Regions from separate parts of the Homo sapiens genome. Here all the other regions are linked to region 2. Evidence: fine-mapped expression QTL. A gene starts in region 2. Each other region holds a variant in brackets. All regions are shown on one strand. Distances are from middle to middle. Region 1 overlaps RORA (RAR related orphan receptor A). Region 2 holds the start of RORA (RAR related orphan receptor A). Region 3 overlaps RORA (RAR related orphan receptor A).

Region 1 (2,679 bases), 410 kb before region 2:
TTGAAAGGAAGGAAGAGACAGGAAAATCCCCCTCACCCTAGCTTTAAGGGTGTTGGAGGTCTTGAAGAAACGGACAGACCCTTGATTAAACCTTCTATATTTTTATGTAAAACATAGGAAAAGGGCTGGTGAAAATGAGGCCTGCATTGCGTGAAGAAGGTTTAAGATTTGAGGGAAAAAAGGCGCATTCTCTTTTCTGTAAAATTTTTAAACATTTTAAAGCTAAATGCTACCCTCTTGGCCTATAGCTTTCACACTGGGAGTAAAGGCAGAGGGGTGGGGGTGGAGGTGGCAGGTGAATGGGTCCTTCAGGAAACTTTGAGGAAAACAACACAGGTTTCCCCTAAACCGTAAAAACGGCAGATCTGGAGGTCCCAACTTCTAATTTTCAATCCGTCGGCTTAGTCTTGGTTTTTCATTACTGAGGTTCCCTTGACTATATAGTATCTCACAATGTCTCTCAAAGTGCAGTCACAGACTACAGATGAGAGAACTATGAGTGAAGCTGCTTAAAATGCAGATTCCAAAGTCCTTCCCTGAAGGATTCTGGTTGTGGTACAGGGATCTGTAAATGGGGTGGTTGATCTCTAACCCCCACCCCCCACCCCAGCTCTGCAATTCTATGCTTCTAGACTCTCTGGAAGGGAACACCACCAGGAACTGTGGCTGTCCCACTGCCAGAGGATACCTCACCTATGCCAGGTGTCACCAATTACCTATTTCCAGCTGTAGGGCCTAGGACCTTGGCCAACATTGGCTCCTTCCACCAGGTAACAGGGCCAGTTAGGCTGTACAAGGGATCCATCTTCCACTGGAGATGCCTCCAGTGCCTCCAGGTTCACTGATCATTGGCTGCAGTGTGTGCTCTACTTAGCCAACTCCCCCTTGCCATAGCCTCTTTCCGTCTCCCTGCTGTGTGCTGTTCCCTTTCAGTGCTGACTCTTGTCCCCTTGGCTGTTTGGATCCGGGGCTTCTAGCCCCTACGCTCTGCACTGGGTCCGCTCCATCTGCTGCCCGTGTCCTGGCGCCTGTGGTCCCCTTAAGTCCTCCAGAAGGTAGGGCTCGCATTAAGAGCCTGCTCCTTCTTCCTTTCACCACCCAAAGTGGCTCAAAGGCTTCCACGTGACTAGTAACTCACCACTTTTATCCCCTATCTCTCCTCTGTATTCCTCAAAGGCTGGGAACACACTTTTGTCATTTCACATCATATTCTAGTGATTTGTATCTCTTTCTCCTCCCTGCCTAGGTTGTAAGCTCTATGATGCCAAGGACTGTGTCTTACTCATCTTTGCATCCGTAGCAACTAGTGTGGGGCCTGATGGTACTGATAAAAACATTTACTGAGTGCTTACTATGTGGCAGGCATTGCACTAGGTGCAAGATACTCCTTTGTGCAATACTTGCTATGCTACTCTATCCTCACAATCACTCTACAAGAGCCCCAGTTTTATTAATCCCATGTGAATAAGTGAGAGCAATGAGGCCAAAGGGTTTAGGTAATTCGATCAAAGTCACACAGCTAGCATGTGGTCAGCTGAGGA[T/C]TGGAATCCAGGCAGTCTGACTCCTGAGCCTCATACTAAAAACTCAAAGTTTGCTGAATAAATAAAGGAAATCTGAATAAAGCAATGAGTAGCAGTATTCACAGAAGCACGGAATTTTAGAACTAAAAAAAATATATACACTGTGTAGTCCAAACCCTGATTGTATTGCTAGAGAAACTGAGGGTGAGAGCAATGAAACAAGGTTTGGTGGTAAATGGTAAAACTCTTATTTTATCAAAGGGAAAATTGGGGTTCAATTTCACTCTTACTTCCACAACTGAAATTGCCAGAATTTGATCGTTTAAAAGAAGCATAGTTATCTCCTAGTTCAAGAGCCTCATTTTGCAAAGGAAGAAGTTGTAGCCCAAGGAGTGCTATGACTTGCCAAGGTCTCTACTTCACCAGAGCAGAACTGGAAATGAACCTGGCTCTCCTAACTCCAGCTACACTAACACAGACCCATGAGCCAGCCCATTCCCCACCACTCTCCCATCCCAGCTTCCCAGGTCAGGTACAGACAGTCCAACCGTCCATGATTTAACCTCAGTGGAAACGCTCCACACTGGAGCTCAAATGCAAGGCAAGCAGGTCCATCCAGATCCAGTTCTTTCATATGACAGGTGGGTAGAGTTACAGGCTCACATTGCAACTGGGGATTTGTGAGATCCACCTCAGAAGAAGGCAATGCTCCCCACAACGAGGCTGACTGTTGAGTGTGTGAATCAGCATCTGGGTGGTGAAGCACCCCAGGATGTATACACTAGCCAGTGCTCAGCAATCAGCACCACGCTTTCTGGCACCACCTAGCATGCGCATTAGCTGCCTTTAAAAATGCTGATGCCCAGGGTCAGGCCCGGACAAATGCTAACAGAATCTCTGGGAGTGGGGCCAGGCATCAGTATTTCGTTTAAAGGCACCACCCCCTGGCTCCAGGTGATTCTAATATATGCTAAGCTAATTCATAAGGCAAGTGAAATGTCTTCCATCCAAATTAGCAGTGTCACCTGGAAACGTGTTAGAATCCAAATTCTACATTAGGTACCCTTCATTATTTTCTTTCTTTCTTTCCCATCTTTCCTTCCTTTCTTCTTTTCTTCCATCCTTTCTTCCCTCCCCTTTCCTTCCTTCCTTCCCTCTC
Region 2 (2,679 bases):
GCTGGAGAAATCCTCTCCGTCCCCAGCTCCAGGCGGCTCGCGCGAGCACGCTTCCTCCGGAGTGACAGGCGCGATTTATACATTATTTACAACAGTAATTAAAGCTGTAGCTTCCTCCTGTTCTTTGCAAACTCCAGGCGCATTCAAATAAATAATCCCCCACTCTCGAGAAAAACACACATCAGGTTCCAATACCTTCAAGAAAGAGTGAGCTTTCCTCAACAGCTCACTTTAGGAAAGGAGGGAGCAACTGAGTCCCCCCCATCCCCCCCAACACACGCAGACACAGACCAAACACCAAAATGAAGAGTAAAAATCGCCAGGGGAGGAGAAAACATTGCTTGCACTATCCAACCAGCATACAACTTGCACTGACCATCCCCAGGTTCCTGCAGAAATGCTTGGAACCTCCGAGAGGGAAGGATTCCCAGAGCAGAAATAAGTTTCGGTGCTTGCTTTTGTAGACGCTCCCTCCGGATGCGCGTGGAGCGCCCCACAGGACCGCCGCCCTCTGCGCGTTGGCGCGCACACGCCCCCCGCCAGCCTGGGCGCCGGGCTCCGAACCCCCGGTCTGCAAACTTGCGCATCTCCCCTCGCCGCGCCCGCCAGACAACTTGGCGAACAGCTCGCCCGCCCGCACCCCGCTTCCTTCGGCCCTTCCTTCAAATCCCAAACGCACCGCCGTGCTCCAAAGAAGGTGTCCACGTCGCCCCCAGACCCCGGAGCGCCCCCTCTCCACCCCCGGGACTTCCCAGGTCGCTCACTCCTCCCGCCCCCCGCCCAGATCTGAGAGGGACCGAAAACACACCCCCGACTCGGGCAGCCAGGGCCGAAACTGTCAAGAGGAGAAAAGGTAAAGCGGAAGGAGGGTGGCCATAAACAGATTTTTTTGCCCCTTCTTAAAAGGACACTGCCGCTTTAAAAGTTTCTTTCCCGGGCCCCCACTCCCCGCATCTCCGTATTTTGGGGGAGCGTATTTAATTGAGGCAACGCAGCTTTCCTCCAGTGTTTGCAGAAAAATCAAAGCCAGGGGGGTGAGCCCGCCGGCTGTCAACCTTCCCGCCGCCTCCCCCGCCCCACTCTGCTCCCGCAAGCCGAGAACGGGCTGCAAAAGTTTGCAACATTTCTGGGGGGCGGAGGGGGGAGGGGAGGGGGGTCCTCCGGGCTCGGGGCGCCGCCGCAGGCTCGCGCGCGGCCGCCGGACCCCGCGCCCCGGGCGCCCGCTCCCGGCCGCCCCCCGCTCCGCGCCCGGGCTCCCGCCGCCCCCTCCCCAGCCCCTCTCCAGCCTCCTACCTCTGCTGGTGCTGGAATAGCTCTGTCTGCGCACCGGGGCAGGCGGCTCGCTCTTGCGGGCGGATTCCTGGTTCAGCGGGGTCTCCCTGGAGCCGGCGGCCGCGTCCGCGCCGCTGCTGCCTGGCTCGCTGGCGGCGGGGTCGGGGGCTGCCGGAGCTGACTCCATGTTTTTTCCCAATGTAGAGATCGCTGGAGATGGCGAGCTCCGAGACTCCCTCTATCTTCTGTTTTCAGAGCAACTCTATGGTACCAAAAAAAAAAAAAAAAAAAAAAAAAAAAAAAAAAAAAAAAAAAGAAGGAGAAGGCGACCGGCGAAAGCAGGAGGGAAAAAGCAGGCGGCGGCGGGCGGGCAAGCAAAAGCGCGAGGGAGCGCGCGGAGTGTCTGGGTGGACGTGTGTGTGCGCCCGAAAGGGGACAAGAGGCGGGTCTGGCCACAGGCAGCGCTAGCGAGAGCTTCTCCAGCCGGCCCCCACACCCACATTCCCCACCCTCCAGACCCCAGACCGAGAGCCACAGACTGGCTGCCAATTTTGGGAGGTGGGGAAAAGAGGGGAGGAGGAGAACAGAGCCTCCCGCGCCCCAATCCTCCCCTCTCCCCAGCCCAGGGACAGAAATTAAAATCGGTGAGATGATTCCGTGCCTACTTCTGAGACTCTCTCGGGAACAGAACTCGTCCCCATCCGCTGCCAGCTTGGGTAGAGACAAATCCGATTGTCCACGTCCACGTTGGGAAATCGCAGGTAGCCCCCTGCCAGCCCTGCCGAGGGCTGAGGAGAAACTAAAAAGGAATTAGAACGGGGCTGACATCCCAAGGAAGGCGGAGGATGGGAGGACGTGGCACTTTTTACTTTGGGATGGGACGGCCAGTGGGTTTCCAATCTTGGTTAAAGACATCTGTGTCTAAAACAGATTTTGTGAATCTAGAAGCGCCATGGACAGTTTCTGGCATGGTTGAAAGAGGTCGCTTTCAGCTCCTTTGCTGTTTGTCCGCGAAGGATCCAGAAACCATTTGGCAGGGCATTTTCTACTGAAGAAAACTTTGGCCTGTTTGGTCGACAACTATCTAAGCTGGATAAAACATGCCACGCTGCATCTAGCTCAAGCGTGGCTGCTAATTGTCAATTCCCACTGGTACTTTTCCTATTAAATGTACAGTCTCATCCATAAAAGGTAGATATACTGGAGAGGCATTACTAATGCCCGGATAACATTCAGATAATTAACAGCTCCTAATAATTCGTATTATTATAGGCATCATTCTACACCCTCCTCCCATTGAAATACATTCATCCCCTAGTAGGTACCTAAAACTCCAGGAAAGCAGATAATTGCATCATCGTTACCTTGACTGCAAACTCCAAGATGAAGGAACAATACAAATTGAAA
Region 3 (2,679 bases), 530 kb before region 2:
TTTCTGCTGTAGAAGAAAACGCTGAGGTGAGGCCAGAGCAAAGGTAAAAGACCTGGTTTTCCTAAAATGGATATAGCCTTAGAGGCATTTATATTCTCGGAGGACACAGTCCTGATTCTTCTGATCATTTTTCAAATCGACTTAATGAGTGTGAGATGGCCTGCTCATTAAACTGATATAATAGGTAAATATCACCTGCATTTAGGGTGGGCAACAGAAAGAGGGCAACTGTTTTCTGGGATTGTAAAGGATTTGCAAATGGAGCAAAAATGCGGGCCTGGTTTCTGAACGAGGTTTATGTTCTGCTCTCACTTTTGACTGGCTGCCACAATACACAGGGCGAGAGATTTTTAAGCTTTCATGAACTAAAAGCAACGCCAATTGCTATGGATTGCTTTTTATAGAATTTCAAGTAATTTCACATTACAAATGTTACCTCTGCTTATGACTTCCTTAAAAGATAACCAAATGCCAAGCCCATTGGAATAAACATCTAGAGCAAAGAGCTACATGTACCCCAACAAACTGTTTTTTCAAAAGCCACAAGCCTAGGTTAGATGCTTTGTCTACCACACTGCCGCTCAAGTGAAGCCTCCCTTCTTCCATCTTCCAAGTACAGCCAAAACCCTAAACACAACCTTTTTAAGGATCCTTTACAAAGTGGATGTTAAAAGTGAACAAAACCTCATTGAACCATCTATTCTTCTTGCTTTAACCTGCAGAGTCATCTACATTTGCTATTTCCTTCAAGTCTACTTTTTTTTTTTTTTCCAAACACTGGAAACTTCAGAGCCACTCACACATTGCAGTAATTCTGCCTGCTTGCTCTACATAAAATAAGGCCTGCTCTTGGGTTCACACAATCAGGCCGGTTACTCAGTAGAATCCGTGGTCTAGGGTAACTCTGAAGAGACGTAAATTTCTAATTTTTATACTTTCCTCAAATTTCATATGTTATTTTTGTTATTTCAAAATCCAGTGCTTTATAATAAATTTATAGGGTGCCTAAGGGGGTCTCCATTCATATTACATGGTATCTCATTCACGGCTCCTCTGGGAGAGAAACACAGAGTTATACCTCTCAGTCAGCCAACAACACTTCCGCTTGTGAAGTTCCTATATAATAATGAGAAACGAGGCTCCTGTGGGTATCCCACACATGTGTGTAAAATAAACGCCTACAAAGTGAAAATGATGCCATGCTACACTTAAAGCAGGATCATGTGGGTAAGCTGGAAAAAACACTTCCGTGTCTGTAGTCGTGAAGTGATTCTGTATTTTATTGTAGACATTGTATCAAGTCTCAGTTTCAAGTGATTTTTATATATACTCCATGCTTCAGCTGAGATGTCTTCTGTTCCTCCTTCTTTCCAGGAG[C/T]GTCAGTAGCTATAGTCAAGTTTCAAGAATGGGGAATGCTGTGGGAGTGTGCAGGCAATGGCCTAAAAACAATAAAAAAGCCCCACTAAAAGCTGGCTTGCTTTTGATTATTACTCTGTCCTGACAATTCTTAGTAATGTCAGTGATAAAATAAATTACTGGGCCGACCACTCCCTAGCCTGCCCCTCGTTGACATGGCACTGTGAAAGCACTCCAATATCTTTCTTAAGAAGGATACATTATGATTTAAATACTGAAAATACTATATATTCACTGTAGGACATGTAGAAAAAAATTTTAAATGTTTTAATGGAGAATTAAAATTTACATTAACTCTACCACTTATTGATAATCATAGCCCTTTATGTCATAATTACTTTTTTGGTTATTAAAAGTAATTCTACTATAAATATCCTTGTTACATAGATTTCTTTTGGCATTTGTGTTTTTTTTTTTTTTTTTGGAAGTACATTCTTGAAAGTTTAACTTTTAAAAAGCATTGAATAGATATCATCGTGTCCTGTAAAAAGTGTTTACCAATTTATAATTCCTAGATTAGTGTACACCTGTCCCAATGCAGAACTTTATCATGAAAAATAAATCCTGATAATTTAACTGGCTAAAAAGGTGTCCCTTTAAAATTGACATTTCTTTGTTCATTTATGATGTTGTTTTGTCTGCATTTTTAAAAAATTTTGTTTTTGTTGTCTAAGTTTCTTGACTTTTGTATTTCCTCTTTTGTTAATCGCCTGTTCATAATCTTTGCTCACTTTTGTATTGTGGTATTAGTCCTTTACTACTTACTAATTTATAAGACTTCTGTATAGTTAATCATATGTTGCTTGTCTCCCCAGTTTTTCTTTTAAATTTTGTTTAGTTTGTTTCTTGTATATGTAAACTAGCTCTACCACTTATTGATAATCATAGCCCTTTATGTAATTTCTACCTTTTTGGTTATTAAAAATAATTCTACTATAAATATCCTCTTTAAAATATCCAATCTAGTAATCTTTTATTTATGGTTTCTGCCTTTCCTTGCATGCCTATAAGGACTTTATTTATTGCAAAAATATATTCACCTATACTTAAAATATTTTTATGATTTTACTTTTTATGTTTAATTTAAAAATTCAAATAAAATTATCTAAATATACTTTTTTCTTGCTCTAGTTTAGCTTGCACAGAAATTGTTTCACTCCACTTCTCAAGATTTGAATCTAAACAACACACCAACTATCTTATGTCTTTCTTTGTTCTCCCGAGAGGTATGTCACTGTGTCTGTTGTGTCAGAAAAAAAATCA

What was found. PIP is the estimated chance that this variant, and not a neighbour inherited with it, causes the effect. A credible set is the group of variants that fine-mapping cannot tell apart.
Region 1: its variant is the best candidate, but not a certain one, in a credible set for the expression of RORA in whole blood (INTERVAL, PIP 0.82).
Region 3: its variant is the best candidate, but not a certain one, in a credible set for the expression of RORA in whole blood (TOPMed, PIP 0.74).

Annotation. Positions count from the first base shown.
Region 1 is chr15:60,820,364-60,823,042 of GRCh38, forward strand. All of the region lies in intron 1 of RORA (RAR related orphan receptor A), which reads right to left. Among named protein-coding and RNA genes, the nearest start is that of RORA-AS4, 58 kb to the left of the region's middle. The variant T/C (reference allele first, on the strand shown) is at 1,542.
Region 2 is chr15:61,227,760-61,230,438 of GRCh38, forward strand. RORA (RAR related orphan receptor A) reads right to left here and starts at 1,543. Exons shown (of 11, transcript NM_134261.3): 1 at 1,294-1,543. The coding sequence starts at 1,459.
Region 3 is chr15:60,696,809-60,699,487 of GRCh38, forward strand. All of the region lies in intron 1 of RORA (RAR related orphan receptor A), which reads right to left. Among named protein-coding and RNA genes, the nearest start is that of RORA-AS2, 17 kb to the left of the region's middle. The variant C/T (reference allele first, on the strand shown) is at 1,378.